Regions from separate parts of the Homo sapiens genome. Here regions 1, 2, 3 and 4 are each linked to region 5. Evidence: fine-mapped expression QTL. A gene starts in region 5. Each other region holds a variant in brackets. All regions are shown on one strand. Distances are between the middles of the regions.

Region 1 (5,103 bases), 55 kb after region 5:
ACTGCAAACTCCACCTCCCAGGTTCAAGCTATTCTCATGCCTCAGCCTCCTGAGTAGCTGGGATTACAGGTGCCCTCCACCACGCCTGACTAATTTTTGTATTTTTAGTAGAGATGGGGTTTCATCATGTTGGCCAGGCTGATCTTGAACACCTGACCTCAAGTGATCCTCCCACCTTGGCCTCCCAAAGTGCTGGGATTACAGGCGTGAGCCACTGTATCTGGCTCCAGATTTCTCATTTTTAGTGAAGTGACATGATTATTATTATTTTGAGACAAGTTCTTGCTCTCTCACCCAGGCTAGGGTGCAGTGGTGCAATCTTGACACACTGCAGCCTCAAACTCTTGGGCTCAAGCAAAACTCCCACCTCAGGATCTTGAGTAGCTGGGATGAGCGGCATGGGCCATGATGTCCTGCTAATTTTTGTATTTTTTGTGGAGATGACGTTTCGCCATGTTGCCCAGACTGGTCTCGAACTCCTGAGCTTAAGCCATTCCCCAACCCTGGCCTCCTAAAGTGCTGAGATTGCAGGCATGAGCCACCGTTCCAGTGATATTATTGGCACCTGCATTTACATAAACCAGGATGCATTTGGTAAAGCTCCTCTTTGAAATTCCTGCTTCTGGCCCAGCCTCATCTAGGTCTAGTGTGAGATCTGTGCGGAGTAAAGAAAGTTGCCACTTTAACACATAGTTTGATGTGAAAGACAGCCAACAGCTAACCTGCCTTTTCCTGACAGTTACTCTGTGTAATTGAAACCTTTGTTTCCAGCGTGACAGGCAGAGCCCCAGCTGATAGAACAAAGGTGCTAGGACCTTCTCTCCTGGTGGCACCATGAGGCTCTGGTTTGGGCTTCCTGATTATACTAACTTTATCAAGTTCTTTCAATACCTTCCCCCCTTTTTCTAGTCTCTGAAACTGTTTTCATAAAATGAGGGCTTTCTATTCTTCAAAGCTTTGTTGTAACTTGCCTGGAAAACAATCTGTCTTTTGTCTGTGTGTATGGTGGGGGCGAGGGGTGGGGGAGGTGTGGGAGTGGTTGTGGGAGAACTTTTGATTGCCAGTTCAATTTCTTTAATAGTTGTTGATTTATTTCATATTTAAAAGATCTTCTTGGCTCTATTTTTTATTTTATTTTATTTTGCTCTGTCGCCTAGGCTGGAGTGCAATGGCATGATCTCAGCTCACTGCAACCTCTGACTGATCTCAGCTCACTGCAACCTCTCTGCCTCCTGGGTTCAAGTGATTCTCCTGCCTCAGCCTCCCGAGTAGCTGGGATTACAGGCGTGTGTCACCATGCCTGACTAATTTTCTTTGTGTTTTTAGTAGAGACAGGGTTTCACCATGTTGGCCAGGCTGGTCTCAAACTCCTGACCTAAGGTGATTCACCCGCCTTGGCCTCCCAAACTGCTGGGAGATTTTATTTTTTGAAACAGGGTCTTGGTCTGTTGTCCAGGCTGGAGTGCAGTGGGGTGATCATAGCTCACTGCAGCCTTGAACTCCTCGGCCCCATCGGTCTTCCCACTTCAGCCTCTTGAGTACACCTCCCAAACACAGCGGTACACCACCACACCCAGCAACTTTTTTGATTTTTTGTAGAGATGGGGGTCTCACTATGTTGCCCAGGCTGTGGGTCCATTTTAGTAGTCTTTTTCTATAAAATTATTCATTTCATCTAAGTTTTCAAATTTGTTAGCATAAAGGTATTCATTGCATTCTCCTAATTAAAAAAAAAAAAACTCAACTGCATCTGTTTTTATTTATTATTGCTATTATTATTATTTTGAGATAGAGTCTCACTCTGTCACCCAGGCTGGAGTGCAGTAGTGCATTCTCGGCTCACGGCAACCTCTGCCTCCCGGGTTCAAGCGATTCTCCTGCTCAGCCTCCTGAGTAGCTGGGATTACAGGCACGCACCACCACGCCCGGCTAATTTTTGTATTTGTAGTAGAGACGGGGTTTCACCATGTTTGTCAGGCTGGCCTCAAACTCCTGATTTCGTGATCCACCTGCCTTGGCCTCCCAAAGTGCTGGGATTACAGGCGTGAGCCACGGTGCCTGGCCCTATTCCTGCTATTATTTATGCCTTTGTACCCCTCTTTAAAAGTCAATCTTGCTAGAGGCTTGTTTGCTTTCTTTGTTTGACTAAAAAGTCAGATTTTAAAAATCCTTTCTCCTTTATCTTGGTTTTCTATTTTACTATTTTCAGGAATGTTCATTTTTTTCTCTGTTAAAATACAAAAATTGCAGTCATTCATTGCATTTGTTAATGTATTTCCTGGATTTTTGTGCTGCCTCTTGTTTCTTTCGTCTTTGTTCACTTTTTTCACTTTCCTCTGACAGTGAGCACCTGCTCATAAGAAACTCTCTTATTTGTTGTATATCTGAAAATGTCTCGGTTTTGTCTTTACTGCTGAATGATAGTTTAGCTGGATATAGAATCTCAGGAAAGGCATTTGTAAGGAAATGTTTGTCATTGTGCTTATCGCATTTAATAATTATATACATTGTGTGATTATATTTTGTCTTCCAGCAGAATGATTTTTGTTTGTTTTGTTCACTGTGTATCCCTGTCCCCGGAGCAATGCCAGGCACATCATAGTCACTCTGTAAATAGGTGTTGAATAAATGAATGTGCAAGTCAGTGAATTCCTCACTAGGCTGTCTGTTCTCCGAGGGCAAAGTCAGCTTCTTCCTGTTCCGGGCTGAGTTCCAGTGTTTTTTCTGATGAAGTAGGAACTAGATAAACATTTGTTGTAGAAATAAATGAATTCACCCAAGATCTAAAATAAAATAATAGGAATACTACTCTTAGAAACTAGTGCCTTTTGAAGAGGCAATCTTCTGATCTTCTAGGTCTACATTTTCTTAATTTTTTTTCCCCCACTGGAATTAGTAACAAGGGAACTGCAGGGGCAGACTGTGGGCTTTCATGAGAGCAAAGCCCTCTTTTCAAATATCTGTTCTAAGGAGGATCAGCTTTCCAGCTTAACTGGGAGGCTGGCTGAGTCCTCATTTCTAAACAGATG[G/A]CAACACATCATTGCTGGTGGCTCCTTTAAGGCAGAAAGGCTGTCAAATCAGCAAAGATGACTTCCAGATACAGCCTGCACAGAGAGGCATGGCGACTGATAAAATATTCATTAGTGACTGCTGTGGTTGCAGGGAGGGCCTGTGCTGCAGGGAGGCCTGTGCACAGAGCCAGCTGAGGTCCCAGTGTGAGGAAGTGCATTAGGGTTTTGCAGTAAGGCCCATTTAGGAAGGAGGCAGGGGCCTTTGAGGCCTATTGTGCCTGAGAGCACTAATGCCCTTCGATCTGGCCATTTATAAAAGAGAAGGAACCATTAGGTCTCGGAAAAGATGCCTGGCCTGCACCATTTAGAGGACACAGGGGTCACCTATGTGTCAACGAAGTGAAAAGGTCATTCATAAAGCCTTCAGTCTGTCAGCCCTAGAACCCAACTCATCATTTCTGGGTTGACCACCATGCTCCTCCACTGTCTGGTTATGTATGACAACTCTCAACTGGACATACGGTCACATGTGTATAGTCCCAGCAGTCCCAACTCTGGGCTCGTTTTGTGGACACAGATGGCCCTCTGTCCCCCTCCAATAGCCCCCTTTAGATTGGATAAGGGAAATCATGTAGCAGCCATCTTTGGCCAGTTGGTGACAGGGCTACAATGCTTGTCTCTGCCCTGGGTCACTCACAGGACCACACAGTTTATTGACAGCAAATTTTGGGAGGGATCACAAAAAGAGGAGAAAAACAAGTCTCGGCACAGTGGCTCACACCTGTAATCCTAGCGCTTTGGGAGACTAAAGCGGGAGAATTGCTTGAGCCAGCTCAAGACCAGCCTGGGCAATATAGGGAGAACTCCATCTCTACAAATTTTTTTTTTTTAAATTAGGTGGTTGTGGTGGCACATGCCTGTAGTCTCACATATTGGAGAGGCTGAGGAAAGAGAATCACTTGAGCTCAGGAGTGAAGGCTTGAGCAAGGCTTCAGTGAGCTATGATTGCACCACTGCACTCCAGTCTGGGCAACAGAGCAAGACCCTGTCCTCCTACCCCCTAAAAAAAGAAAAGGAAAAAGGAGTTTTAAAGATGCCAAAACTAATGCATTACCAAGATTTTTAAAAAACATATTTTCCTTGGCTATTGGAGAACAAGCCTTTTTGCAAATCACGTCTCCTTTAGCCATGACGTTGACTCTGAAACATAGAAATATAAACAGAGAGAGAGAGACATTCCTTCCAAGTACTGGTTTAGAGACAGGCAGAACACAGTTGCTGAAAGAAAAGAGGAAAAATCAGAATCAGAAAAGCACATTATTTTTTTGAGGCATCAAAGTAGGTTTTCCAAACAAAATAGAGTGCTATTTCTTTGCTGAGGGGGTAAAAAAAAAAAGCCATTGTGGAACATACTTTATAGTCACCCTTTAATGTGGATACATGACAAAAATATTTCTGCTACTCTTTACTCACATCGTGCCTCTGACCAGTGGTCCACTGTTTGGTCCTGTTTTTCAGAGACTCCCAGCTTTGGTGTCCTTAAGAAAGGGACTTACTGACTTCATGCATCTTTCAAGCAAAGATTAACAACAATGATAATAGAGTAATAAGTTGGCCTGGAATCTTGGCAAAACTGAAAACCACATGTTCTGAGAGTCTCTTCCTGCGCTGGTAATTAAGTTTCTTCCCCCTACAAAATGAGACTCTTTTGGACCAACAGGCGTTAGGCATGTGGACATCTTGATGGGATCCCATCTTCTCTTTTGAGGATCAAATCCTGGCCAACTTTGTTTGATGTTCAGAGCCCTGTATGGGAGTCAAAGCCTGCTAATAAAGCAGTCGTGCCTGTTTGGAGTCATTCTACAGCTCAGGACTTCATCCCAGGAGGGAGGTGTAGTGGGTGACTCACTAACTGTAATATAAACAACGACAACAAAAGGGTCTCTGAGTCACACTGACATTGTGGAATCAAACATATATCTCTGTGCCCTGACCCCCACCAAGGATGCAGTCACACGGATGTCCAGTTATCTTCTAATCAATGCCCAGTCCAGATGGTCACCACCCACCTCTGCAGCAAAAGTCACTGCGC
Region 2 (5,103 bases), 82 kb after region 5:
TATTTATGTACTAGGACTACACTCTTAGTATAGAGGCTATGTAATATATTTTACTATCTGGAAGGCTAGTCAATCTTTATTGCCCTTTTTAAATGGTTTTCTATTTTTGCATGTTTATTTTTCCATTTGAACATTCAAACCAACTTGTCTAACTCCAGTAAAAAAAACTTGGTATTTTTATGGATTTTTTTTTTTTTTTTTTTGAGACAGAGTCTCGCTCTTGTTGCCCAGGCTGGAGGGCAATGGTGTGATCTCAGCTCACTGCAACCTCTGCCTCCTGGATTCAAGCAATTTTCCTGCCTCAGCCTCCTAAGTACCTGGAATTGTAGGCACCCACGACCATGCCTGGCTAATTTTTGTACTTTTAGTAGAGACGGGGTTTCACCATGTTGGCTAGGCCGGTCTCAAACTCCTGACCTCAAGTGATCCGCCTACCTCGGCCTCCCAAAGTGTTGGGATTACAGGCGTGAGCCACTGTGCCTGGCCTTTATGGATTATATTAAATGTACATAGTAACTTGAGGAGAATTGACATCTATATGGTATTGAGTCATCTTGTCCAAGAACAAGGGTTGTCTTTTTATCTGCTCAAGTTTATTTTTGTGAAAACATATGAAGTCCTTAGTTAGAAATTTTGCATCTTGTGCCAAGCAACATAAATACAAATAAACTCACACATAGACAATGTTAGTGAAACTACAGATTACTAGGGATAGACAGGAAGAGGTTCAGAGCTGCCAGGGAGAATATATTGATTACTTACAAAGCAAAGACAATTAGGCAGACAGCTCATCATTAGTTGCCAGAAAACACAAAACTGTGGAGAAATAACAACTGTCAATCTAGAATCCTATACCCAGATAAGTTATTGCTCCAGTGTGAGCACAAAATAAAAATATGAAGGAACTTCAAAAACTTTATGGGAAAAAGAAATTAAAAGATAAAAATAAGAAATGTAAACGTTATTTCTCAACACAAGCTCCATCCAGTTAAAGACGTGTTTGTAGGTGATGATATGTAGTCCATTCCTAAAGAACTGAGGATCCTGGGAATTTACCCATGTCAATGCAGTATATTTAATATTATTAACTGAAAAAAAAAATGGGTACCCTTTCAAGATTTTTAGATTAGGAAACAAAAAGAAGTCAGAATGAGCCAAATCAGGACTGTAAGGTGGATGCCTAGTAATTTTCCATCAAAACTCTCACAAGATTGCTCTTGTTTGATGAGAGGAATGAGCAGAAGCAATGTCGTGGTGGAGACGGACTTTCTGATAAAGCTTTCCTGAGAGCTTTTTTGCTAAAGTTTGGCTAACTTTGTCAAAACACCCTCACAATAAGCAGACGCTGTTGTAATCTAGCCCTGCAGAAAGTCAACAAGCAAAATGCCTTCAGCATCCCAAAAAGCTGGTGCCATGACCTTTGCTTATGAGTGGTTCACTCTTCCTTTTGCTTGGACAGGACCACTTCCCCCTCTTGGTAGCCATTGCTTTGACTGTGCTTTGTCTTCAGGATTTTACCGGTGAAGCCATGTTTCATCTTCTTTGAAGACATGCTTCAGGATCTTGATCCCACTTGCTCAAAATTTCCACTGAAACTCTGTCCTTGTCCGTAGCTTATCTGGGTGCAACAGTTTGGTATCCATGAAGTGGAAAGTTTGATCAACTTTGATTCCTCAGTCAGAATTGTGTAAGCGGAACCAAGTGAGATATCTAAGGTGTGGGCTATTGTTTCTGCTGTTACTCTTTGGTCCTTTTCAATGAGGGCATCAACAAGATTAATTTTTTTCTGGTAAACTGATGTAGGTGGTCTGCTGGTACAAGCTTTATCTTCAACATCATCTTATCCCTTCTTAAAACAACTTATTCATTTGTAAACTTCTGATTTCCTTGTGGCATTGTTGCCATAAACTTTTTATAAAGTATCAATGATTTCACCATTCTTTCACCCAAAGTTCATCATAAACTTGATGTTTGTTCCTGCTTCAATTTTAGCAGAATTCATGCTACTCTGATAGGGTCTCTTTTCAAACTGATGTCTTATCCTTCTTAGGGCCACAAACTACCCATTTTAAAAAAATGTACAGGTACTGATGAAAGAACAGAAAGATAAGCTGTCATTTCCAAAACAGTAGAAGAAAAAAATGAGAATAAAAAAATTTCATCAATTCATAGAAAAAAAAAGAGAGGGAGACAAACATAGCAATAGAAAAATACAAAATAAGATGATAGAATTAAATCCCAATATAACAGCAATTACAATAAATGCGATTCGGTCAAACTCACCTGTTAAATATCAAATTGGATTTAAAATATAATTCCATACTGCTTATAAGAGCAATTAACACCAAATGTCTTAGAAAGGGTAAGATTGTAAGGTAGCTTTCAAGTTAACTCTTCATATGCTGTAGGTTTCGGTTTTGGGCTTTTTTGTTTGTTTTGGCAAGAATTTATTAGGTTGGTACAAAAGTAATTGCAGTTTTTGCCATTGAAAGTAACGGAAAACAGCTATTTTCTAAAACATTTATTTTGGAAAACAGCTGGTTCAATAGGCCCATCATACTAGTCTTTGGAGTGGGTTGATCTAATTCTGTCACCCAGCAGTTACTGTTCCTTCAGCTTCCTGGCATTTCCCCCTTTGGTCAGCCTCAAATAGTTTCAGAAGGCTAAGGAAAGAGCCCTAAGGCATTCCGCTAGAGACCCTCAACTCCGTAATAGTCCGTATTTGAACAGTTTCATTCAACAAGCTGCAAATTCACCTGGCCAGTCTCTCTTTCATCCTGCTATGTTTCTTTCTTGTTCAAAAATGTTAACATGCCAGGACTTTGACCTCCATGACACAAAGAAAACTCTTGCTAATAACAGACTTACCCGATCACAAGTGGCTTTTCTGTAAAACCCCAAACAACCTAAACCCCTTTTCTGAGTGGGAGAATGAAAACATCAGCTGTTGCAGAATAGACGGCATTCCTGTTGCTTAATTGGCACATCACGTACCTCCTGTACTTCAGAATGCCTTTGATGTCTGTTCTTTTGTTTTCATTTTTTTTTCAGTTTGCAGTAATTGAGAAATAAAGGTTCCAAGTCAAGAAACAATATCAGAACAAAAGCCA[A/T]AGCTGCACTCCAGTTGTTTGGTGTGTTTGAAATGCAGACTTCTTAAGTTCACCCAGAAGTTCTGCCAAAGTACACCAATAATGCACCTGTCTCTTTCAGCTGCGACAAGAATAATTAATTACATGAAAATGACTTCCATCGGAGGTTAACTTATTTTGGCTGACAGTCACAAACGTACACAGACATGTCTTACGCTGCAGTTAGGCAGAGCTTTATTTAGAACATTTTATTTATATCTTGGGTGATTTCGTTCCTAAGAAATTGAGGAAGAGAAAGAGGAGATGGTGCAGGAATGCAAGAAAGGAACATTTCTCATCATTTTTTCTTTTAACAAAAGCGGGGAAAAAAGACCAACGTCATAGCTAAGAACTTGACTTTCTCCCCAGAGTACTGTAGAATTCAGCCACTTTAGAGAGGGGTCAAGTGTACTTTGGGGGATGGGAAAGGGTGCAGGGCAAAAGGAAGGTTGCGGGAATTGACAGGTTTTCTCTGGTGTAACTTTAGGGTCTTCATTTACTCACTTTCTTCTGAGAGGTTAGGAGTGGGACTTGATGTTTCTACCATACAGACAAGACAACACGAATGTAGTACCCCTGAATCAGCCCACCCACCCTTGACAAGTGTTACCTCAGCCTCCCTGGGAGCCAAGAGGGACTCACTTTTGCAAATAGCTAAATTTTATTGTGGGCTTTGTTAGGGGCCAGGCATTTGCAAGCATCTCATTTCCTCCTCACCCCAACTCTCTGACATAGGAACTACTATCATCCCCGTTTTATGGATGGGGGAACTGAGGCTTGGGAAGGTTAAGAAACTTGCCCAAAGTTGGCCGGGTGCAGTGGCTCATGGCTATAATCCCAGCACTTTGGGAGGCTGAGGCGGGTGGATCACCTGGGTCAGGAGTTTGAGACCAGCCTGGCCAACATGGTGAAACCCTGTCTCTACTAAAAATACAAAAATTAGCCAGGTGTGGTGGTGGGCGCCTATAATCCCAGCTTCTCTGGAGGCTGAGGCAGAAGAATCGCTTGAATCTGGGAGGCCGAGGTTGCACTAAGCCAAGATCACGCCACTGTACTCCAGCCTGGGCAACAGAGCAAGACTCCATCTCAATTAAAAAAAAAAAAAGAAAATTAAAAAAAAAAAAAAGAAACTTGCCCGAAGTTGCACAGCCAGTCAGTGGCAGAGCTGGATTCCCAGCCCAACCACTACGCCACACGGTCTCTCTGTCACTGTTATTTTTATCAATCAAGGGGTCTCACATCATCCCTGGAAGATCTTTTAAATTCCTGATGTGTTTCCCTGAGTATGTGTGCTGGGTTTTTTTTAAATTTCAGGCTGGGGTAGCAGCGCTGTCTGTAAATGGAGAAGAATTCTGAGGCTTCAGGTAAGGTTTAGCTTACCCTCTGCTTCACCTGCATATAAAGAGGGCAAAGCCAAGGTGAGGGGCCACTGCTTCTGATAATCACCTTGCAAGCCCTTCCTCCTCAGCAATCCCTTATCACAGTCAGCCTGACTCTTGCAGTTGCAGTAGGCTGTTAGTCACGATGGGGGTCAGCTCAGGTTCCTGGGCCTGCAGCCATTAGCCTATAATAATAGTCACTGTTACCATTGTTACTATCTCCTACTTATTTTTTTAAGATGCGGTCTCACTCTGTTGCCCAGGCTGGAATAACACAATCATAGCTCACTGCAGCCTGGAACTTCTGGGTTCAAGCAATCCTCTAGCCCCAGCCTCCTCAGTAGAGGGACTACAGGTGGACACCACCACACCTGGCTAACTTATTAAGTTTTTTGTAGAGATGGGGGTCTCGCTATATTGCCCAGGCTGGTCTCAAATTCCTGGGCTCAAGCGATCCTCCTGCCTTGGCCTCCCAAAGCGCTGGGATTACAGGTATGAGCCACTGTGCCTGGCCACTCCCACTGCTTAATTGTTTCCTCCATGCTAGAATTTAAATCTGGATCTGCAAATTCCATTTCCACCAGCTACTAGCCTTG
Region 3 (5,103 bases), 170 kb before region 5:
AGGTAGAATCAAGGAAATAATAAAAGAGCAAAAATAAATAAAGATTCAATAATTCAATAAAACCTTTGATTCTTTGGAAAGTCTAATAAAATCAATAAACCTCCAGCAACATTGATCAAGAACAAAGAAAAAGGCCCACACAAATGCAAAAAGACTTATAGATACACATAAAATTTGTGATAACTGAATATGCAACTTTAAAAATAAAGTTATTTTTAAAGTTGAATATATTTAAAGAGAATATGTAAATATGATACTCCTAGGTTATTTTTCTAATAATTACCATAGTTATGTTCTCAAAAATTTTCCCCAAATTGAAAAATAAGAAAATGAAGCTCTCATTTATAAGAGCACTAATAATATATTATGCCTAAAATACATTAAAAGGGATGGAGTGAATCTATCTCAAAAAATAAGTCAACACTCTCATCATTTATAAAATTTATAAACTTCTAATCAAAACTCCAAGAAGTTATTTCATAAAACATAAAATAACTCCCAAATTAATCCCAAAGAATAAAGGGGAGGTAATGGCCATGAAACTTCAGGAAAATAATGAGGGATATTTTCCCTGAAAACATTAAAATATATTACAAAAGGATAATACTTTATAATTTTTTACTGATACAGTGATTTAAAGACAGATTAGTGGAACAAAACAGAAAATTCACCAACAGCCTAAAGTTTCCTAAGGAGTATGTTGCAAATCAATAGGAAGGATATAATTCAATACATATGGGAAACTGTTTAGGAAAAAAAGTAAAGGCAGATCTCTAACACACACCATAGGACAAAACACTGTATGTAAGGATTCAAACACCTGTGAAACGAACAAATCAGTAAGAGGAAATACAGATAAAATTTCCATCCAACTTCTCATGATACGTTTTATATATAAAAAACCATAAAGCAGGCCAGGTGTGGTACCTCACACCTGTAATCCCTGTGCTTTGGGAGTCTGAGGTGGGAGGTTCACTTTAAGCTAGAGGTTCGGGACAAGCCTGAACAACATAGTGGGACTCTATCTCCACAAAAAAATTAAAAATTAGCTGGGTGTGGTAGTGTGTGCTGAAGTCCCAGCTACTAAGGAGGCTGAGGCAGGAGAATCCCTTAAGCCCAAGAGTTTGAGGTTGCAGCGAGCTATGACTGCACCACTGCACTCCAGCCTGGTGGACAGAGTGAGACCCCCATCTCTTAAAAAAAAAAAAAGAAAAAAGAAAGAAACAAAACCATAGGCCGAGCAGGGTGGCTCACACGTGTAATCCCAACACTTTGGGAGGCCAAAGTGGATCACCTGAGGTCGGGAGTTCAAGACCAGCCTGGCCAACAAGGTGAAACCCCATCTCTACTAAAAATACAAAAATTCACCAGGTGTGGTGGCGCACGCCTGTAATCCCAGCTACTCAGGAGGCTGAGGCAGGAGAATGGCTTGAAGCCAGGAGATGGAGACTGCACTGAGCCAAGATCGCGCCGCTGCACTCCAGCCTGAGCGACAGAGCAAGACTCTGGCTCAAAAAAAAAAAAAAAAAAAAAAAAGGAGAAAACCATAAAGCAAAAATGAAGTGTTAGGATATTTCAAGCTACAAATAGGAAATCTCAACTAGCTTAAACAAGGAAGTACTTTAATGGCTCATGTAATTCCAAAGTACAGAGGAAGGTCACAATCAGACTCATTTGATCAGTCTTGTTCCATTTCTCTGCCATTCTCTCAAATCTGCCCTCTTCTTGCACATGCTAGCTTCTTCAGCCATATGGCTTCCCTCACGCCTACAGAGTCTCCGTCCTTAGGCCTGCATGCCTCACCAGTTAGAGGAGTTCCTCTTTCCCCACTTACTGCCAAAAGCCCTAGTTATACACCCATCTCTTAATAGTCACGAATACCACCCGCTAGTTAGATTAGGCCTGAGTTCCCAGTCAGCCACCTTGCTGGGT[G/A]TATGACTAGGGTCAATCGCTGGGCCTGGGGATGAGGTCATCCAAACCAAACTCCAGCCTCAGTGAACGGTTACAGAGGAAAAAATTCGAGGTTGGAAAAGTTCACTACAAAGTGACTGACAAAATTAACTATATAAAAATACTAAATTTCAACATATAAAATAAATCCACCATTAACAGAATCAAAAAACAATGGCATAGGTAGAAAACACATATGTATTCTGAAACAAAATAATGATAAAGTCCTATATGACCCCAAACTTTTTGGTAATAAGGTATTAGAAGATTTCACTAAGTTGTATCATTCGGCAGAAATGTAGAAATAGATTACAATGAGAACAATGGCATAATAATCTAGGAAAAAGTAATGTCTGGTTAAAGGAAAAGAAGTACTGGAACTACCACTCACCTTTTGCTGAAGACATAGCCCTGGTAGTGTTAGATGCGACCAGGAGCGGTAACGGCAACTGAAAAATATTGTCTATGTATAAACAGCAAACAGCTGTGGGTGATGGAATCCTGTGTAATGTTCAAGTCACTGGCATTAAAGAAAGCCATAAAAGGTGAAAGCAGATCAGAAGAGTAAGAGCACAGGAACAGTTTTCATATGCATATCGTACCTTTTAGGAAGCTCTCCAAAACCTTTCATGAGTGAAACGGAATATAAAGAAAATTAGTCACTTAATCTAAAACAGAGAGAAATTGTTTGAAAATAGGTTTTAAATTGAGTTTTAAAATATGGGTTTTAAAAATACAGACTTTTTGATGATGAATAGGAAAAGTTTTAATTACCAAAAGATAATAAGCAGGAAGTATAAACAGCATTTAAAACTAAATTAAAGCTACTAAATGCTAACAGAATTTTAAAGGGAAAGTCAAAATGTTTAATTAATGGTTTGGGCAGGAATCCCATGTCGCAATGAATAAGAAGTACCACATGATGCCACAGAGAGCCAGAGAGGCAGCTCAGGTGATTTTTAAATGCAGTTCCACTATGAAACCGTGCATCTGTGGAAGACTGTCTTGTACAAATATAATATACTTCATTCTTTTGAGTCAATGATTCATAAATCTTGACTTGAGAGTTAAGTAAATTTATTTACTTTTAATACCATTCTCCCCTGGACTTTCATCTGGAGGGGGAAAACCTGGCCATAACATAATCATGTCATTTGATTTTTATACAATCAATGAGAAATAATTTCTTTCCAATGAAACATTAATAATCAAAATAAACTTCACAATTAGAAAAGACGTTAGAGGAAAAAGAAAACTAGGATGTGAAGCATCTCCTTTGTCCTGCTTGATTTTTGCGAAATCAAGTCATCGCAGCACCAAGTGAGAGAGACGTGCTCCAAGGGTGGAAACGCTGCTCTGGAGGAGCCCCACACCCGAGGGGGCTCAAAGGAGGAAGACTGGAGAATGAGCTGCTATGAACCAGTGCGAATAGGTGGGGCAGTTAAGGGGCAGGGCTGGGGAGGGCTCCAGAGAGCAAGAAGCAGCACTTCCAGACAGAGGGGAGAACAAGTATCCAAGGAAGGGCCAGGCCTTGAAGACAACAAGAAGCAAGTGACACTAAAGAGCAGGAGGGAGAGTTCAGGTTCCAGACCCTGGAACTAACTAGTCATCAGCTTCTACATAAGGGAGAGAATGGAACAAGGGGAAGGAATCAAAGAGCTTTAAGCAAGAGGATATCATGATTAAATGTGTTTTAAAATTATCATCCTGGTTGCCATGTGGAAAATGGACGGGAGAGTACCAAGTGAATGCAGGGGTATCAGTTAGGATGATACAATGGGTCAGGGCTGGACACGGTGGCTCACACCTGCAATTCCAGAATTTTGGTAGGCCAGGAAGGAGGCTCACTTGAGCCCAGGAGTTCAATACCAGCTTGGACAACATAAGGAGACCCTGTCTCTACAAAAATTAAAACATTAGCCAGGTATGATGGTGCACACCTATATAGTCCCCACCATTGAAGAGGTTGTGGTAGGAAGATCGCTTGAACCCAGGAGTTCCAGCCTGCAGTGAGCTATGATCATGCCACTGCACTGCAGCCTGGGTGACAGAGTAAGACCCTGTCTCAAAAAATAAAAATAGAAGTAATGACCCAGGTGCGAGATGGCAATAATTTGAATATGATGACATTAGAGGTGGAAAGACATGGATGGGTTACAGAGAAATGTAGGAAGTAGAGGTGGCAAGACGGTAACAGGTAAGACACAAAGTGTGAGGGAGAGGTAAACGTCCAATGTGATAGAAGACTGTTAAAGGAATTAAAGAACAATGAACATGTCAAGGGTAGGCCAAGGGACTGGAGGGAGAGACTGAGTGGTGAGATACTGGGGTTGGTACTGGACAGGAGGGATGTGAGGTGTCTTTAAAACATCTGGTAGAGATGGCCGGGCACAGTAGCTCACACCTGTAATCCCAGCACTTTGGGAGGCTGAGGCAGGCGGACAACGAGGTCAAGAGACCGAGACCATCCTGGCCAACATGGTGAAACCCCGTCTCTACTAAAAATACAAAAATTAGCTGGTCGTGGTGGCGCACGCCACCACTACTTGGGAGGCTGAGGCAGGAGAACTGTTTGAACCCAGGAGGCAGAGGTTGCAGTGAGCCGAGATTGAGCCACCGCGCCCCAGCCTGGGCAACAGAGAGACACGGTCTCAAAAAAAAAAAAAAAAAAAAAAAAAAAAAAACACCATCTGGTAGAGATGTCAAGTTGACAGGTAAAGGGACAGGCGCATGATACCACATGGCAGGCAGCTACCCTCATTTTACAGGTTAAAGGTGGATGTCCAAAAATATCGAGGCATTTGAGCCTGAAAGGATTGGTCTTTCAGCCCAAACTATTTGGGCTCCAAAGTCCACATTCCTTCCACTACCCTTCACTGCTGTGGTAGCTAGGAACATACGCGAATTTGGAGAGGAAAAAAAAATTAGAAAAATATAGGCAGACCATACGGTGGTCTAAAATTTTCAGCTCATGTTCATCACACTCCCTGAACATTATTACACATATTAACCTACTGTGGGAGCCAGGGCTCTGTGTAGGAGGCAGCAGCAAGAAGTAGAAGGAAGGTAACTAGAAAGATAAAATGGAAAAAAAAAAATAATTCAAGATGTATTAGTACCTGGACCCAGGAAATAAAAGGTAGTCATGAATAA
Region 4 (5,103 bases), 900 kb before region 5:
CGAGGGGGTGAGCTGAGTTCTGGGGCGAGCTGTGCTGGGTGGGAAGGTGGAAAGGCTCCCTCCTGGAGGAATCAGGGAGAAGCTGAGGCTACTGTGTATGGACGGGGACCCCTGGCTGCTAATGTTGTTTGGGAGACGATGTTTAACATTTTCCTGTTGCTCACCTAGAGTATGAGCATTGCCTCGTTAAACAAAGCGCTGTTGAAGATAAGTTGTGAGGACGGAAGGGAAGCTGCCCTTCAGCTGCCGATGATGTGCCTTTCCTTGCAGACCTAGCTCTGTTGGTGTTTTGATTTTTGGCCTCTCCCTCTCCCCCATCTTCTGGAGAGAAGGGAAGCCGCCCCGTGTCCACCCCCTGCTCCGAGCTATGGAGACAACAAACCCCCAACTCCTACGATGTGTTCCCACATTTTATTCAGAGCCGACATCTAAGTTTTCCTCAATATGGCAATATACTTTGGAGATTAAAGCAATCAAAAACAACAGGCAGGAGAACTATGTTGGGCTCAGGGCTGCTGGGAAGGCCTCATTCCTCTGGGGTGCCATTTCCTCTTGTCTAGCTTTTATGTGCTTGTAGTTGAACTTGACGCCCAAGCACAAAGGTTTAAAGAGGTTGCCAGAATTGCTTCCCTAGACAGCTGGCCGGAAACCACTGCTACCTCCGACCAGTGCCAGCCAGGCTGCCCAAAGACAACACCAATCAGAAGACCCACCTTGGCTCTGTGGGTCTAAACCAGGGCCAGGCTGTTAGAGCGGCTTGCCCATGTGAAAAGGCAGCACGGAGGCTTCGGGGAGGCAGCCTGGAGCGCCCCAGGGCTGGCACGCCTGCCTCGCACACCCGCCCGCCTTGCTCTTGCTGGGCAGGCCCTGACTGGTGAGCATCGTTCATTTCCACCTGCAGGATGTAGTGGGCTTCTGCTCACTGAATTGACCGTCTAAGATCTTCCGCTCGCCCAGGCCTTGCTAACTTGAGATCAATATCCAAGATCAGTGTCTTTATCATTAAGGAAATTAGAAAACATATTTTGGACATACATAAATAGCGCCATGCCTCCAAGCTCATGGGGCTCTCCATTAGCTCATTCATCACTGTAACAGCCCTGCCATGGAGGAAGGTATTAATTTTCATAACACACCTGCAAAAACCATCTTTAAATGGACATTTAATCGGTCCAATAGTCATTAGGGGAGGCTAGCCCCCAGAATCTGATGACTGATCGACTTGGGTCCCAGCAGAATAGACAGGGGAATTTATTTAGGAGAAGGATGGGGGCGTTTTCATGGCAAAGACCCCGGATGCTTATGGGCCCTGTACTCTCTAAGGAGGCCAGGCCTCAGGGATGGGACGTGGAGAGGTGCTTCCCGCCCCATGGATAACCCAGCCCCACATAATGATTCCTCACTCGACGCTCTCCTGTCATGGCCTGCTGCCTTCCTTTCTCCCCATCTCTAGACCCTCCAGTGACAATGGGCTTCTCACATGTTACCGTGGCGGTTCTCAAAGCAGGGTTCCCAGGGACCTCACATCTGGGACCTTGTGAGGAATGAGACTGGCGGGCCCCACCCTGGACCGACCGAATCAAGGGACTCACTCAGTGTCCAACTGTGACCAAGGGGGGAGCTGGGATGGGGAGCCTGGTCTCTTCCAGGCGCCCCATGTTCTTTTATAGTCAGCCAATGTACTGGGGGCTCCAGAATGGGCCCAGGAAACGGAAGGGTTCCCCAGCCAGGCCATGCGTCCAGAGTGGGGAGAAGCCAGTGGACAAACAAGGGCCCCCAACCTGGGTTGTTTTGTGGTGGGCACAGCCAGGTGTGCAGTGAGCCTGGCCCCTGTGCTGCCTCCCACCCACAAGCAGCTGTGACCACAGTTAACAGGCCAGGTCTAGCCAAGCTCCGACGCTTGGGCCCCAGCTCTCCAGGTGGAGCGCCTGCGGGGTCTGCTGCTGGCAATGCAGTAGGCAGGACCACGTGAACGAGGGGTGCCCAAGCGAGCCAGGGGAGGCAACCGCACGGGAGGGCCTTGCCTTGTAGCCTTGGATGTTCCCATTCTGGCTCTCCGGGGGTGGTGGGTCCCACGTGACCTCCAGCTGGCTGGCCGTGAGTGGGGTCACCTGCACGTTCTGCGGGGCCATGGCCGGGGCTGAGGAAAGAGCAATGCGGAGAGAAGCTGAGACGTTCATTCAGAGCCGGCCCGGACCCTCGCCCACATGCCCATGGGGCTCGAGCATGCCCTAATTCCGCTGGGAACCATGTGAGAGATTCTTCCCTGGGCCGTCGCCCTGGCTTAGGAGGCCTTAGACAGTTATGTCCTGGGATCCGTGGCTCTGTGTCCCCCTAAGAGCTCTCAGCCCTTTTATGCCAGGGAAGACCACAAATCCTTCCCATACGATGTTCTTAAATGCATACAATAAAATATATAGAATTGCACAGAAAAATAATTATACCGAGATACAGTTAGCAGAGTATTTGAAACCAAAGGTATGAGATCGTAATCCACGTGCTTCTTGGTTAATACCTGACCAGGCTTAGGGGCTGGTCTGATGGTTGCTGTGAGATCAAAGCATTGGTGGGTGAGGATGTTAACTTGAGGTCCCAGCAATGCCTGGGATGTGACAGGGTCACTGCGGCTCTATCGGCGAGGGAGTCACAGGACTCCTGACTGCTGTGGTTTTTGTCACTAATATTACTGATTGAGATTAGAGAAAAGATAGCTGTGTTCCCATGACAGGTTCAGGCATCCCTGGCTATGAAGCCCTGATCTAGATGAAGTTCGTCCAGATACACAGAGTTGCCCCTCTAAGAGGGACAGGAAGCTCCGATGTTTGAGAACATGGCTGCACTTTGCTCTCTGAGGCCAGCTCTGGCTTCACGTTCTGAGGATCCAGTCTTCCCCTCCAGCCCCCTCGCTCCCCCTGGGGAGGAGCTCACTGGGGTGCTGTCTGCGTCTGCAGGGCTGCATGGCACACGCAAACCAAAGGACACAT[G/C]AGGATGTTGCGGCCGCACCTCCGCGCCTTACCACACCGCCATTAGGGGTGTGGCCGCACCTCCGCACCTCACCACACAGCCATTTAGGCAGTTGGGAGCACACGCCTGCGTTCCAGAACGCCTCCGTCCTGTCTGCCCCATGCCAGCTTCACACTATCTTTGAATTCCACGCTGCGCACTTTCTCTTGACGGCCTATTCTCTGCTACTCCCTCCTCCCACTGGGGCTCTCCCGGCTGTCCATGAGCTGGGCCCTGGGGAGCTCCAGGGCAGCTGTGCAGGGGGCCTGGCTCCCGGAGGCAGAGGCCAGCCGAGCACTCCTCTCCGCCTGCCGCCGGGGCTGCGGCCCAGGAGTGCAGCCTTTTGACTGAGTGTCTTTACGGACCATCGATGGAGACGATAAAACAGTCGCTGTCCGAGGGAGATGGCCCAGCACCCGGCTCTCTGGAGAGGCCTTCTTGGGAGAGACTGACCTCAGGACTCGCCCCTTCCCCATCACCCCCTCCCCACTTTCTGCTCTCTCCCCCCAGCGCAGAATAAAATAGTAATTAACACCCACTCAGCCTGACACCAACTATTTATTTTGTTCTAACTGTGTGGTTTCCGTATTATCACTGCCCACCCTGCCGTTAATGGAAATGTTAATAGCCCACACCAGGTTGTTGTGACAGATGCTCAGCCTCATTATCAGAAATTCTTATTTACCGCCCCATTAAACAGCAGAATCACACAAAAAAACAATTCAATCAAAACTAACTGGAGGAATTTTAACAGCCACATTAATAATCCAAAACATAAATAAAGTTAATGTCTTTTGCATGTTTGCCATCGGCAACTCCATTGCAAAATTACTGTTGTACAATTAAAATGTGAAAGGCAAAATTGAGCGCGGCCATTACCCTGGTAGTCGGTGAGACATCGCCCTCCCCCCGCGACAGCCCCAGGGTTTCTTTCCAAAGATGGCCCAACTCAGCGCGCCCACGACAGCTCTGGACTTGGATATCCGCCTGTAGGAACTGGTGGGTCTGTGAGCGCCAGGTGAACCCCCATAAATTAGGGGCCCGCATGCCCCTTTCTCTGGGGTGGAGACGAGCTGGGCAAAGGCCCATGACCCTGTCTCAGGCAGCTGAGCCGCACTGCCGTGCCTACCAGCAATGCTACAGCAAGGCACTTCTGGACCGTAAAATTACTGCAGGCAACAAAGCATTTTTTGTTGACACCAGCAGGGAAGAGAGAAATATATGTCAACGCTGAGCAAAGCGTGTCGGTTTGGAGACTTCTTTTTTGCTCCTGAAAGCCGCTGGGTCTCCACCCTGACAGGAGAACCTGACTTTCAGGAAGGCTCTGCCATTGACAAGCCCCGGTGCAACTCTCCTTCTCCGTAAAGCGTGTGCAGTTTGGGAGACACGGAGCATCTGATTGTCGTTCGTTTTTTGTTTTCCCACCTTAGCATTTGCGGTGTAAGGATGACATACATACCAGCTTGGAAGCTTTTTTTTTTTAAAAAAAAAATACATGAAATTATTTTTAAAAAGCATTTTAGACCGGCAATTGCTGGCGTCTGCTGCTAGGGAGATTGCCTGCAACTGGCATTTAAAGGGAAAGGTGCAAAGCTGGGGTTTTCTCTGGGGTCTCACGCTAAGGCTACGATGCCATCGCAGAGCTGAGTGACTCAGGTCCTTGGTGTGATGGGTCCTGTACCCTCGCCAGGGGGCCTCTGCGGCCTGGGAGAGGGATCTTGCTGAGGCAATGAGAGACAAGCTTTCAGGACTTCTGGAGGGACCCTCACCTGACAGCCATCGTGGAATTCCTGACATTTCTGAAATGTTCTGGAATTCTGGCTGGTTGCTTGGATGGCCTTGCGTGGCTGGGCGCTGGGGCCTGAGCCGGGTTATGGCGTGGCCTCCTGCCTCTGCGGGAAGGGGTGGGCTGGAGGCTGCAGCCAAGCCCCAAACGGCAGCAAGGACGGCATTCTGTCGCCTCGCCCAACCTCCCTGTGCTCGCCGTCCCTAAGTGGCCAGCGAGCTTCAGCTGGATCAAAAGCAGCCGCTGGGACACAGTGGCTGCCCTGACTTAGTCTTAATTTGCTGGTGGGTGGAGAGCACCAGCAGCTCATGGTT
Region 5 (5,103 bases):
AGGGTCTGTAACCTAGGTTATAAAAATGTAACTTTTACTGATCAATGTCGCACGTTTTTTCTCAAAATACACGACCTAGCCTACTTACATGAGGTGCAGAGAAATTAGTCATAGCTTCACCTAGCTACAATGTAATAATATGGTACTTAGGAGGCGCTCCAACGTAGTGGTAACTATTCCATTTAGAATGTTACATCTGATAAGATTCAAGAGAATGCACTCCTGCACATATGACCAACTCATCATCCCATCAGAAATCTCTTATAACAGCACCAGAATTTTCATTTTCAAGATACATGAGCTTTTGTCAAATGGTGACATCTCCTCTGTAATATGAATTTTCAATACGATATAAAAAAAGATGGATATATTACACATTTCACAGAGCAAAGAGAACAGAAACCCGTCAATGAACTTAAAATTTGTGACAACCTATCTGAAATTTTACACTAAAAGATCTGTACACTTTCATAAGCCATATAAATGTAAAACAGGTACCAATGTTTTTACTGCCAAAAAGGAATAAAATATTCCTAACAAAGTTCGGTTGTTGCCTTAATATATTTTTAAAATGTATTTTCATTAACATTTCAGTTGTTAAAATGCAATGCTTTACACAACCTTCAAAGTGCAACTGATAAAAACTTGAAATCTATGTAATATACTTCAAAACAAAGCCACTGGCAGATTTTTTCCCCACCATTTCAGTCTGTGCACCAATCTTCAAATGTATGAACGTACAGGTCTTAGTGCAAAATGCAAGTCACTGTTTAAAAAAAGAAAACTTAATAAACACATTATTTTAAAGGTCATCCTAAGTGATTTAGATTTCTTCACTTGAACCTGGTTGCTCTAACAATCTACAGATCCCACTGTACAAAATGACTTAATAAATGCTTTTCTTCCAGAGTAAGTCATTAAGCAAAAAGCACAAATAAGTGAAATGAAAATTTTCCAAGTAATGGAGGAGTTAAATTAACCAGAAATATGGCAATTTGTTTTCATGTAGTAAAACATAAGAGGGAGCATTTATGAAAGCTGGAGGGGGGTGGAGGGGCACAATTTAGATAACGTTACATAAGCATCAATAAAAAAAAGTATGAGTTCGTTGTTAAGCTATTGGATGATAGTTTTGAGCTCAGACCTTTAAAATGTTACAACATTTAAGTCATGTTACTACACATAAATCATCTTCACAGGACACAGAACACAGCTAATTTAAGTTTAATGCTCTCATCTTCGCCAATCTCAGAATATCGAGTTCCTTACCATGATTGTTCGTTAGCTGTATCTTGGAATACAACTAAGTTAATTTTCCTAAAACTACCATCAGCAAAACCAGTTCACTAATGTGTTTTAAAGACGTTACCAAAGGACGTATTAAAATAGTTATTTCTGGGTTGAGGGGGGTGTTTTGGTTTAAAGACCAGCAAACTTCAAAAGAAAACGATGCTAGCTGGCAGGGGTACGTTACGGGTTTTGTCGGGGGCGGGGAGGGGGTGGAGGGAAGCCCAGATTTGGGAAGGAAAGCTCGTTTCACAAGAGATCCCATCTCTCGTTTCAAAAGGTCATTTCCATTCAGCAGATCCTCTTTCCCTATTTCAGAGCTCACCACTGTATTCTAAACAGAAGCCAATAGAGGGAGAAAAACAAAGCCAAGTGCAAAAGCTGTGGGCACTGAAAGTTTTGCTCCACCGGCCGCGCAGCACCCACTTGGGGTCGGGCTTTGGGACTTGGGGGAGTCAGGAGCAGGCGGGGGCTGGGGAGAGGACGAGGCCCTGGGGAGGGGCTGGAAAAGGCTTTTCACAGCGACTGGCACTTGATATTTCCAAGTCTTCTGGATGTCACTCACCGGAAACCAGACCCTGCGGTGCGAAGACTCAGGTACAGACCAGCCCCTTTTTCATCCATGCAATGGGAAGGGGACTCGGGCATCCTTTTAAGGAGCTGAGAAATGGGTCCTCAACTTAAAAATTTTTGTTTGTGCTACTGCGGTATAAAAAAAATAAAACGCAAAGTAGCAGACGGGGTGCAGGCTCTACGGGGCTCCGTTTCCCTCTCCTCCGAGTCTGGCGTGGAGGAGCCCCTGGGCTCCCTAGAGCCCCCAGCAAGGCGCATCCCGACCCGGGCCGGGAAGCGGGGGGACCCCGGACACACTCTCGCTGCTCAAGTTCGCGCCTCCGCGCCCCGAGGCGACGCCCCCGGCCCGCGACCCCGCGCGCACCTACCTTGCGCCAGCGCCCGGAGCAAGTGCAGCTGCAGCGCCAGCAGCGCCCACCAGCCGCGGCGGCCCGGCCCCAACTTTGCCGCCCGCCGCCCGCCGCACCGCCCCGCGCCCGCCGTGTCCCCGCCGGAGGTCTCGGGCGCCGCCCGGGGTCGCGAGGGCTCCGGGCCGGGGCGCGGCGCCAGCGAGGGGCGGGCGCGGCCGGGCGGGGATCCCCGCGGCCGCCCGGGGCCCGCGCGCTCAGGGGGCTCCGCGCCGCCGCCGCCGCCACCGGCCGCCGAGGGCCGGGCGCCCCGGGCCATGCCGAGCAGCCGCCACCCCGAGCGCCGCGCCGGACGGACGGGCGGGCAGGACAGGCGGGACGGCTCCGAGCGGGCGCGGCCACTCCGCGGGAGGCGCGGCGCCCCCCGGCCCGAGGTGAGCGGCCGCCCAGCGCTGAGGGGCGGCGTCCTGGGTCCCCGCGTGAGGGGCGCGGCGCGGGCCGGGGACGAGCCGGGCGAGAAGAAGTTGTCAACGGGGGAAATTCGCGTCCGGCGCTCACGCAGTCCCGAGCCCGCCGCGCTAGCTCCGAGGGGTCCGCCGGGCGCGGAGGAGCCGCCGCCGCCGCCGCCCCCGCCCGGCGCTGAGAAGAAAGTGCGCCCGCCCGCACGTCGCGGTCGCGCTCGCCCTCAGCTGCCGCGGCCGCCGCTCCCCATTCACAGCCCGGCCGCACGCGCCGCCCGCGCCCGCCGCCCGCCGCCCGCCGTTGATTGGCCGAGGGAGGCGGCGCCCGCTCCCAGGGCCCGCCCCCCAGGCCCTCGCTTGTTTTCAAAGTCGCGGCGCCCGCCCGCCTGCAATTTTGTGCCGGCCGCGGCGCCTGGCTCGGGCGGCTTCCCGCGCCGGCTGCGCCCCCTAGGGACCCGTAGTGGGGACTGCAGGCGGCGTCGATTCGGCACGCGCTCCCGTGGCGGGCTCGCGGGCGGGGGTGGTGCATCCTCGCCCGGCCCCGCAGCGGTGCGGGCGCCCGAGTGGGAAGGGCTCAGGTGCAGCAGGACGCGCAGATCGTGCGGCAGCCCAGGGCCGAGGGCGGAATAGGGCGCGCCCCGAGAGGCGCCCGGCTACCACCAGCTAGCTCAGTGCTTGGGGGTGACGCGCCAAGTTACCGTAATTGCAAACACGCGCAATCGGGTTTTTAATTTCTAGCAACCAAAGGCACCACTGGGTGCAAACTCGCCTCCTGTTCAGAGGAGTGGATATGGCATTGTAGAAGCGTCCAAGGTCACTTTTGGCCGGCGCTGGAGGAGGGCGGGGTAGGGAGGGACACATTGCAGGTTTCCCACCGTGGAGTGGGCGAGTCTTGGGGCAGGGTCGGCCAGTGGGAGGGTCTCCCAGGGCGGGACCCGGGAGCCTGTGGGGCTGGGGGTGGGGACGGGCGCCGACGCTCAGCATGTGGTAAGCATTAGCAGAGTTTATGGGGTGAACTAAGCGCACTGGAGGCTGAAAGGCCAGCATTTTTGTGGGAGGAGAGCTGGAGGTGACACGCACTGCCTCTGGAGTTGGCCCGGGAGGAGCCTGGGGACGTGTGATGATGGTCGCATGAGATCATGTAAGAGATGAACGCAGAGGGGCTGGGTGTGAGCCCAGCACGGGGCTGACTCCCCAGGAATCACCTGATGCAGTAGGTTTATTGTCCCAGCCAAGAAAGACCCCGGGCGAGTGGAGAGCAGGTCACAGGGCTGGGGTCTGGGATAGGAGCCAGCTCCTGCTCACAGAGCGCCTATGGTATTTGTCAAATAACTGATTGGTGGCTCAATATTAGCCTCTGTACACGTCCCCTAAGACTTAACAATGACCACGTGAACAAAACAGGGAAACTGAGGTCCAAGTACAGCCGCCGAACAGGAGGTGGTTTCAGAAAGAGGCCTCCCATCTGCCCCCTTTCCACACCATGCTAGGAGGGGCAAAAAAGTTAAAGGAGCCACGGAGTGCCCTGTTCTGAGGATATAGTGAGGGCGCATAGATGGGACGAGCCGGAAGAGGACAGCTCCCCAAGGACATGGGGATGAGACTGGAGGCAGAGAGGCATGTCTGTTTTTATCTTCTGTTGGTAGCAAGGCTGGGTTTCTTCAAACTTGCAAGATTATAATGAGAACCTGCTGGGCGGGGGGAAGCAATACCTCCTGTGCAGTGAGCACTCACTGTAGGCCAGCCCAGGGCAGCAGCAGCAGCAGCTTCACTACCTGCTGTGTGAGAGGTGCTGGCCCTGGTACAGATGGAGAAACTGAGGCATAAAGAAGTGGGCCGGGCGCGGTAGCTCACACCTGTAATCCCAGCACTTTGGGAGGCCGAGGCGGGCGGATCACTTGAGGTCAGTTCAAGACCAGCCTGGCCAACATGGTGAAACCTCGTCTGCAGTTAAAAAAAAAAAAAAGAAAAGAAAAAAGAAAGAAGAAAATGAAGAAGAAAGACAGAAGAAGAAGATGATTAGCCAGGCGTAGTGGCGTGCGCTTGTAGTCCAAGCTACTCGGGAGGCTGAGGCAGGAGAATTGCTTGAACCTGGGAGGTGGAGGTTGCAGTGAGCCGATACCTTGCTACTGCACTCCAGCCTGGGCGACTGAGTGAGACTCTGTCTCAATAAATAAATAAATAAATAAATAAATAAATAAATAAATAAATAAATAAAGGAAGTGAAGTGTTTTGCCCAAGGTCGGGAGCTCACCTCCCTTCCTCTTCACCCCAACCACCTCTGCTTTGCTGGGAGATAGAGGCTGGTGATCCAAGAGTGGAGTCATGGGGCTTTGAGGTCTCACTCAGCTCCGCCCTTTGTAGTTGTGAAATTTGGGCAAATCGCTGACTCCAAGTTCCTGTAAAAAGTTAGGAATAATTCCCATCTCCAGGGT

Direction of the effects. Alleles are on the strand shown, and positions count from the first base shown. SD is a standard deviation of normalised expression in the study named. Not every link is listed here.
For the expression in transverse colon of the gene that starts at base 2,861 in region 5, A is the low allele of the variant in region 3 and G is the other (small effect, 0.25 SD a copy in GTEx).

The links. PIP is the estimated chance that this variant, and not a neighbour inherited with it, causes the effect.
Region 1: its variant is the best candidate, but not a certain one, in a credible set for the expression of SDK1 in lung (GTEx, PIP 0.68).
Region 2: its variant is the best candidate, but not a certain one, in a credible set for the expression of SDK1 in thyroid (GTEx, PIP 0.83).
Region 3: its variant is the best candidate, but not a certain one, in a credible set for the expression of SDK1 in transverse colon (GTEx, PIP 0.51).
Region 4: its variant is the best candidate, but not a certain one, in a credible set for the expression of SDK1 in blood mononuclear cells (TOPMed, PIP 0.86).

The regions. Positions count from the first base shown.
Region 1 is chr7:3,244,393-3,249,495 of GRCh38, reverse strand. SDK1-AS1 (SDK1 antisense RNA 1) reads left to right here. Exons shown (of 3, transcript XR_001744897.3): 3 at 4,530-5,103. Among named protein-coding and RNA genes, the nearest start is that of SDK1, 54 kb to the left of the region's middle. RefSeq lists an enhancer at 4,404-5,103. The variant G/A (reference allele first, on the strand shown) is at 3,030.
Region 2 is chr7:3,216,864-3,221,966 of GRCh38, reverse strand. No RefSeq gene overlaps it. Among named protein-coding and RNA genes, the nearest start is that of SDK1, 82 kb to the left of the region's middle. The variant A/T (reference allele first, on the strand shown) is at 3,111.
Region 3 is chr7:3,473,623-3,478,725 of GRCh38, reverse strand. All of the region lies in intron 1 of SDK1 (sidekick cell adhesion molecule 1), which reads right to left. Among named protein-coding and RNA genes, the nearest start is that of SDK1-AS1, 120 kb to the right of the region's middle. The variant G/A (reference allele first, on the strand shown) is at 1,933.
Region 4 is chr7:4,202,916-4,208,018 of GRCh38, reverse strand. It overlaps SDK1 (sidekick cell adhesion molecule 1), which reads right to left. Exons shown (of 45, transcript NM_152744.4): 36 at 2,025-2,140. Among named protein-coding and RNA genes, the nearest start is that of FOXK1, 480 kb to the left of the region's middle. RefSeq lists enhancers at 1,531-2,030, 2,031-2,532, 4,612-5,103. The variant G/C (reference allele first, on the strand shown) is at 2,985.
Region 5 is chr7:3,299,010-3,304,112 of GRCh38, reverse strand. SDK1 (sidekick cell adhesion molecule 1) reads right to left here and starts at 2,861. Exons shown (of 45, transcript NM_152744.4): 1 at 2,229-2,861. The coding sequence starts at 2,526. SDK1-AS1 (SDK1 antisense RNA 1) reads left to right here. Exons shown (of 3, transcript XR_001744897.3): 1 at 1-1,884. RefSeq lists enhancers at 2,060-2,560, 3,270-3,781, 3,782-4,294 and a silencer at 2,835-3,384.